Linked DNA regions of Homo sapiens. The protein of the gene in region 1 purifies or fractionates together with the protein of each later gene. This does not show direct contact. Each region holds a gene or a part of one and is shown on either strand. Other genes may lie near its edges.

The links.
Region 2: the proteins of PLEKHA1 (region 1) and MSL3 purify together in Homo sapiens (affinity purification with mass spectrometry; 2 studies listed by BioGRID and IntAct, with this or other methods). This does not show direct contact.

Annotation. Positions count from the first base shown.
Region 1 is NC_000010.11:122,412,412-122,416,328, reverse strand, and holds part of PLEKHA1 (pleckstrin homology domain-containing family A member 1), read right to left. Parts: intron 3,410-3,917; coding exon 3,284-3,409; intron 471-3,283; coding exon 327-470; intron 1-326. UniProt on the Homo sapiens protein: Binds specifically to phosphatidylinositol 3,4-diphosphate (PtdIns3,4P2), but not to other phosphoinositides. May recruit other proteins to the plasma membrane.
Region 2 is NC_000023.11:11,755,858-11,759,774, reverse strand, and holds the start of MSL3 (MSL complex subunit 3), read right to left. Parts: upstream 1,539-3,917; 5' UTR 1,512-1,538; coding exon 1,410-1,511; intron 1,194-1,409; exon of another isoform or gene 1,068-1,193; coding exon of another isoform or gene 1,002-1,067; intron 129-1,001; exon of another isoform or gene 1-128. UniProt on the Homo sapiens protein: Non-catalytic component of the MSL histone acetyltransferase complex, a multiprotein complex that mediates the majority of histone H4 acetylation at 'Lys-16' (H4K16ac), an epigenetic mark that prevents chromatin compaction.

The DNA.
Region 1 (3,917 bases):
CAGCTCTCTTTCCCTGACCCACTCCTGAGTATGAGTAAAGATGAATAGAAACACTTTCTAAAACATTAAACTGTTAGGAAAGCTCATTTAAACTGAAAGTCAGTGGTAATGGGCATTAACTTTCCTGGCCCCCTGCAAACCAAGCAAATAACAGCATTGAATTATAAACAGAGAATATCCCCTATTTTATCTCCTGACTCTCCTCAGCATGCCGGTCTCTCACTTTGGGTCTTTCATAAAATAAAGCAAACAATTTCCATGTTAATTTGAGTTTGCTAGAACGTAATCCTTTTTCATTATTTCATGTATTTTGTTAAGCTACTCACCACTGCTCCTTGTTTTACACAATATCCAGCTTTGATAACCGCACTATCTTGAGGTGGTTTAGGAGTAAAGTAAGGAAGATGGCTTTGTGACCGTTTCAGATTATTTCTGTCAATACTTTCACCACATTCATTTACTTCTTCTTTCTAAAATGAAGCAAAATAAATAAATTATTTTCTTGCTTGTTTAGCATACTTTTATTTCATATTATCCCAGTAGAAAATCTTAAAATCCACCTTAGATTAGTCAGAAACAGATTTTTGAAGAGTTTTCTAATTAATCTGAGATACTTACTCTTAATTTTCCTGTCACTGATTAAAGCACAAATTTCCATTCCTCTTGTTTTGCACAAGTCCTGCCACCAGTGCTCTTTTTTGGGGAAGGAGTTAACTTTTTATTTTGAAATAATTATAAGGATTCACCAGAAGCTGCCCAAAAAAAGTACAACAGGTCCTATGTACCCTTTCACTAGTTTCCCCTCAAAGGGAAACGGCGTAACATTATCAAAAAACAAGAAATGGACATTGGCACAACCCACAAACTTTATTCGGATTCCACCAGTTTTACATACATTCATCTATGTGTGTCTATACAGTTCTATGCAGTTTTATCACATGTGTAGATCTGTGTAACTACTACCACATTTAAGACCCAGAATTGGTCATCACCCCAAGGCTCCTTTGTGAACTTTAGAGTTCCTACCCCTAAATCCCCTGGCAGCCACTAATCTGTTCTCCAAGACTATAATTTTGACATTTTGAAAATGTAATGTAAATGGAAGCATACAGAAGGTTATCTTTTGAGATTATCTTTTTTCACTCAGCATAATTCTCTAGAGATTCGTCCAGACTGTTCCTTGTATCTAGAGTTCATTCCTTTTTATTGCTATATTTCCATGGTATGGATGGATGACCAGTTGTTTAACTGTTCACCCATTAAAGGACATTTGAGTTGTTTCCCACTTTTAGCTATTAGGAAAAAAGCTGCTATCAACATTCATGCACAAGTTTTTATGTGAATGTAATTTTCCCTTTCTCTACGATAAACACCTAGTCCTGCAAATGCTGGGTTGTACAGTAATCACAAGCTTACTTTTATTATTAAAAAAAAAACAAAACATAAACACTAAACTGTTTTTCAGAGTGGCTAATTTTCATTCCCACCAGCAACACCTGAGAGATTATGTTTCTCCTCAACCTTGGCAGCATTTGTGTCGTCACTTTTATTTCAGCCATTCTGAGAGGTGTGCAGTGATCTTTTATTGTGCTCTTAATTTGTATTTTTTCCCTGCTAGCTAATGATGGTGAACATCTTTTCATGTGCTTACTTACCATCTGTTTATCTTTTATCTTTTGATGAAATATCTGTTCATGAATTTTCTAATTGGATTTCTTGGGCTTTTTACTGTTGGGTTCTGAGTTCTTTCTATGTTCTAGATAAAAGTCCTTTGTTGGACATGTGGTTTGCAAATATTTTCTCCCAGTTTGTAGCTTTTCTTTTCATCCTCTTAAGAAGGTCTTTCATAGAGCAAGTATTTTTTATTTTGATGAGGTCCAATTTACCAATTTTTGCCTTTTATGATAGACATATATTATTTTATAATTTTTAAAACTATACTACAAAATAAATGATGCAATAAAATTATACCCTCCATAAAATCCTAGAAACTACTGAAATATCTATACCAAAATTACAATGCAACAAAATCTTAACTCTAGACAAAATTAAAACAGCCACAGATACAAACTAATACAGTGTCTTAACACAACTACAGGAAAATAGTCTTACCCCTTATGTCAACATAGGTCATAATACCAGTGAAAGAAGCTTAATCTAGGTACATAGTAACCAGAAGGTTAACAGTTTAAAATCATTACTTTTGGAAAAAGTAAACACACAATCCTAGCTTATTTTTTTATCCAACTTTGGTGGAAAATGTATGCTCTATGACAGCAGGGAATTTCTGTTCATTAACATACCCTTTGCCAAGCATAAAGAAAGCACTCAATAGTTAATTAATTAATTAATGTTGTAAGATTTCTAATCCCACTAATCACCCTCCCGTAGCAAAAGACCTGAAAAATGTGGGGAATGATACAATTTGATTTAAAAGATTTATAAAGTGTCAAAGTCTTTTGAGTTCAAAAGGCACACTGGTAATGAAAATACCCAAGCTTGGCAATACCAATTGATTACTTTAAAATTCTTGGTTTCTCAACTACTAGTAACTTAATATCCATTACAAATTCATCCTTTTCAATAGCAAAACAAGAAATTCAAGCTCAGACAAGAGTTTTAATTTCATCAAAAATTGTATGTAAATTTATATTTTTCCTAAAACTCAAATAAAGACTTAATTTAGCATATTAGTACTTCTGAGATATAACTTAGTTAAAATTCCAGTCTTCTGTTTAGCTCACTTAGGCCAGGTTGTAGAAAAAATAGATTTTAAAAATTACTACTTGCAAACTCTTGACTCAGCAATTTTATTTCTAGGAATTTCTCCTTTAAGAATATTCATCATAGCATTGTTTATAAAGTAAAAGAAACAAAAAGGAAAAGGAACTCTATTTGTCCAATAGAGGATTTGTAATTTATGGTAAATCCATGGAAGAACTACTATGCACTCATTAAAAATGATATAAAAGGATTTCTGATGACTTGGAAAATGTTCATGATACAAGTGAAAAAATCTGTTTACAAAATGTAATATACAACTCATATCTCCATTTCTGAGGTGAAAAGTACATGAAGAAAGGCTCAGAGAAATCATGAGAAGTTTTAAATGTTATGTAATTTCCAAATTTTTTATAATAAATACTTTTGAAATAAACAAAAATATTTTATAGTAATTGTATATTATACCAATTAAGCAAAGATGCACTGTTTTAGTTTTAATAATATAAAAATCAATATACAATAATTAGACCCTCACACAATAGAAGAGTTACTTAATTACCTGAGTGGGAGTAATGATGGGTACGCCACCAACAATATCAGTTCTGTAAGACACTTGCTTTTTCCCACATTCACCATGGCGACTTAGGTTATCAGAATTAGGCTGTGAGTCTGACTGCTTTGGTACCTGAAATAGTAAATAAAATGAATCATTTTGCAACCAGCATTATACATGTGAACCTGTTTTCTCGCAGAATTTCTAATTATTCATCCGTTTGCATACGGTTGACAGATACATATAAAAATTATAGTCCATGTATGTACTCCTTAAGTTATCACACTAATTTTTCTGTTAGAATAATATTTTATAATATAGCTATCACGTAATGAGTGCTTACTCGGGCAGGTACTAGTTCACACATTTTTCTCCTTTACTACTCCTGTCTACCCTATGCATAGGGGCTCTACCCCCACCTAAGAGGTAAGGAAATAGGCTCAGGGGCATTAGGGAATATAGATTCAGATCCTGACTATAATACATTCTAGCCAAGTGTGTGTAACTCTTCCAAGCCCAACTGCTGTGCTCTAGACCCTGTTTATTGGCACACTTACTATTGGCTTACAGCTCTTTGCTGTTTTCTTCCCTTTCTCCATTCCTACCCATGATTCTGGGATTGTGGCATATTCAGTCTTTC
Region 2 (3,917 bases), on another chromosome or scaffold:
TCCCACAAATGGCAGAACATACAGAAAATTAGAAGTTAGATCAGGAAAACTAATTCACAGACCCTTTTTTAAAGAAAGCATTCTCTCCTCTTTTAGACCGACAGCCGGGTTGAAATATTTTTCCTTTCATTTTTTTCCCCCAAGTGGACGCCTTCAAAATAGGAAACATCCGTCCAACCACCCCGTGATTGGTCTCTGAGCGTGAGACAGTGTGAGGCTTCTGAAGCCATTGGCCAGCCGATTTGTCACTAAGGAGAGACTCCAGGCTAGATGAAAGCTGCAGCCCTGAGAGCTCTGGGAGTTGTAGTCTCCTGGGCTCCCCTATGTCCAGTGCCAGGATGGCTAGCTGGAGACTCTGGAATCCCTCCCTGTTGTGTCCCTAGAGGGAACAACTAAAACTAATGATGGGGCGTGCCCCCCCCCCTCCGCCCCGAGGAGGCTGGAGGGCGAGGAGAAAGAGGGATAGCAGACGCGGTTAAAAGACAGGAGCAGCAGGGGAGGGAACTGAAGGCAGAATATGCTCATCCCTTTAGGGATGTCCTTTAGCATCTCTAATGGACAGAGCTGTCCAGACATCGCCAAAGACACACCTGGGACTGCCCCTGTCCCTGCCGCCTAAGGCTTCGCCCAGGTGGCCCTAGGAACCCAGGTCTCTGAAATGAAAGCACCTGGGTGCTTTCCTTGGGGATCTGGGAGACCTGGTGCCAACTCCTGCCCGCCACCCAAATCTGAGGAGCTGCAAGATGTGGCTCAGCTCCCGGAGACTTAGGTGGACCGGCCCGGGGCGCGATTCCCATCAACTATGGTCAGACCCACGTAAATCCTTCAGAGTTTGAAAACGTAAATGCTGCAAGGCCCTGGGGTACGAAAACACTGGGCCAACCTTGCCCTCGGGATGGGGTTCACGGCCTACAGGCGGGATGGGGCCTAAACTGGACTAGGGTCCCAGGGACACAACGTCGCAAGTCAGCGGCCAGCGCCGTGTAACTATGAATTAGAACCTGGATCGGACGGCCAGGGCGTCCCACAGGAGCCCACCCGGCACCAGGCCGCACAGAAGGAGACATTTAACGCGAAGACAGAAACCGTATTCGAGAAGCCTCCTCCCTCAGCGGCCACCGTTGCAGTCGGGGGCGCAAACGGTAGCCCCGGTAACGCGACAAAGCATGGGCGAGGCTCCCAACCGCGCGTGCGCCGCCCGGCCTGACGGAAGGAAGTGGAAGCATCCCAGACCCCGCCCCGACTCCCGGGCGTAGCGCCCTGTGAGCGCCCCCTGCCGGCCGCACCGCTCCTCGCAGGCCGAGGAGCCCGGCCGGTCCCTCAGCTCCGCGCGGCCGTCCGCCCCCGCCCCCGCCCCCGGTCCCGGGTCCCCCAGCCCGCGCCTCCTCCCTGTCCCTCCGCGGCGGCACCTTGGCATCGTACAGCACTCGCGCCTTGGTGGGGTCAGGCTCGAAGCACAGCACTTTCTCCCCTGAGTGGAATTTAAATTTCATGCCCTCGCTCGCGCTCATTTGCTCATCGTGGCGGAGGGCGAGGCTCCGGGGCGGGCGGAGCGCGCGCGGTGGGGGAGGGCGGGCGGGGGCGGGGAGGCGGTGCGCCGTGGCCGGGGGGGGCCGGGAATGGCGGAGGCTGCGGCCGCCCCGCCCTCGGCCCCTCCTCCGCCCGCCCCGAGCCGCTGCCGGGACCTCGGAGGCGCCTGGCGCGCGCGCTCCCGCCCGGGCGCGTCCCCGCACGTCCCCGCCGGGGCTCCGGGAGGGGTGCGGGCGGGGAGCGCGACCCCCTGGCCAAGGTCTACCGGCAGGACGTCTCCCGTCGCCCCCATGGGAGAGGGTCCCCGCGGCCTCCAGGCTGCGCCCACGTGCGCGCAGGGTCGTCCGTCGCCCCGAGCGCCCGCTCTCCGGCCCGGGCGTGGGAGGCGCCTAGGGAGAGAGAGAGCCGGTCTGGAGTAGGCACCCGGCGGCCGGGAGGCTGGACGGCGTCTGCCCCCAAGAGCTCCCTGGCCGTGCGCGCCGCGTCAGCCCCCTTGGCAGAGCAGCGCGCCGATGAGTGTGGCCACGCTTGGAGAACGCAGCGCTGGAGCTGGCCCCAGGCGGGCAGTGGCCTCGGGCGAGGGCAGAAGGGCACTCCGGGCTGTGAATAGAACACTTGCTTATCCCTTCAGAGGACAAGCCGGTGGCAGGCCTGGAGCCCCCAGTGACGGGTTGAGCAGTGGGCAGCGAGGCAGATGGGTCCTTAAAGAGTAGCTGACGTCTTCAGTGTCAGCTTCTAGCGTGGCCTGACAGCCCCCAGCATCCCCGGAATGCCCCCCACGGTCTATCTGCTCCAATAGACTAAAAATTCCCTAAATAGAAGCACCCTTGAGGCCGCTATCAATATGGTACCTGCACAGAGTGGATGTTAAGTAAATACTTGATGAGCGAATGACAAGTGATGGGAGACTTGAAGGACAAACTTCCAGGGACAGGAAGGACAGTGCTGGGCTTTTTCTTTTGAGTTTTGGAAAGCCGTTGGGCAGTGTAATTACTGGATTAGGACCGGGCTGGAGACCAGCTTCCAGGCTAATCTCTGCGGACCTGGTGAACTTCCCCTTCTCTGTTCTAGCCTCCAGAAAGTTGCATTTGCTTCCCCTCTGCACGCTTCCTTCACCAGGTTCCTGGTATACATCCTTCACATTTCAGCGTGGGCATGCCAACAGAAAAGCCCTCAGGCTTCCCAAGATGAATCATAAAGCCCTGAGGTGTTCCCTCCCAGGACTCTGCTTAACCCCTTTCTTGCATGTACCACTGTGCTATAGAATGGGTTGTTCATTTGCAAAATGACCTCATTAAGACAGTAAGCTCTTTGAAGCTGGGGGTAGGGGTCTTATCCAATTCATCACGGCGTATTCGTGGCACATAATATGGAATGAATGAACAGATTGATTTAGGAAATAGAACCCACAAAACTCAGTGGCCAATTGGATGTGAAGGAGAGGGAAGGAGGAATCTTGAGAGACTTCCAGGTTTTCTGGCCCAAGGAATTGGGTGAGTAATAGCTGCATCCGCCAGAATAAGGCTATACAGAGGAGTTAAAGGTTGGGGGAAGATGGTCAAATGGCCTTTGGGGTAATACGGTGCAGAAACTAGAACTGGAACCATGATTCCTCTCCAGGTTGTGGTGTATCAGAGATGAGAACAGTAGATGGTGGTGTTCCCCACAAATGGCAGGGGCGGCTTGGAAGCACATGTAATTGCACGTCCTGTGTAAACCGTAACTGAAGTATTCACCTTTTTATTTTTCCTGCCCATGATTGGAGAGAGTTCTGCTGCAGGCTCTACCCTTTCAGGGATAGGATTTTAGATGCTTTCCTTTGTTTCTCCGCATTTCCACCCCTTCTTATGTCATTGAGGAATTCCTCTTTCCCCGTCCCTCTAAAAAGTCCAAGAATGCAAAAGCCTTCAGGAACCTAAAAGTTAAAAAGCCTGCCAATGGCAGCACCCCTTACAGTCCTCCTCCAGATTAGGATCCACTAGAGAGGGCTCCACCCTTAATGCAGGACATCATTTTTCCTCTCGGGTGTAAAGGTTAAGAACATGGCCAGCTCTGCAAACCACTCTCCAGGACCCAGTCCCATGCTTGTCACTTTCTAGCTTGTGACCATGGACAACTGGTTAGTCTCTTTGTAATGCACTTTGTTCATGTTTAAAATGAAGGAAATAGTGGCTCCTACTTCATAGGGTTTTTTAGGAGTCAATGAGTCAATTCAGTGTACATGGCTTTGTGTAGTGCCTGACATATAAGGGCTGGGTAAATATTTGCTCTTGACATTAGGCATTTCTTATCTGTTTCTCCGTGTCCCCCATTCATTCATTCATTCATTCAGCAAATATTTATTGGACCTCCTGTGTGCTGGTTGCTAGACACACAAAGTAGAATAC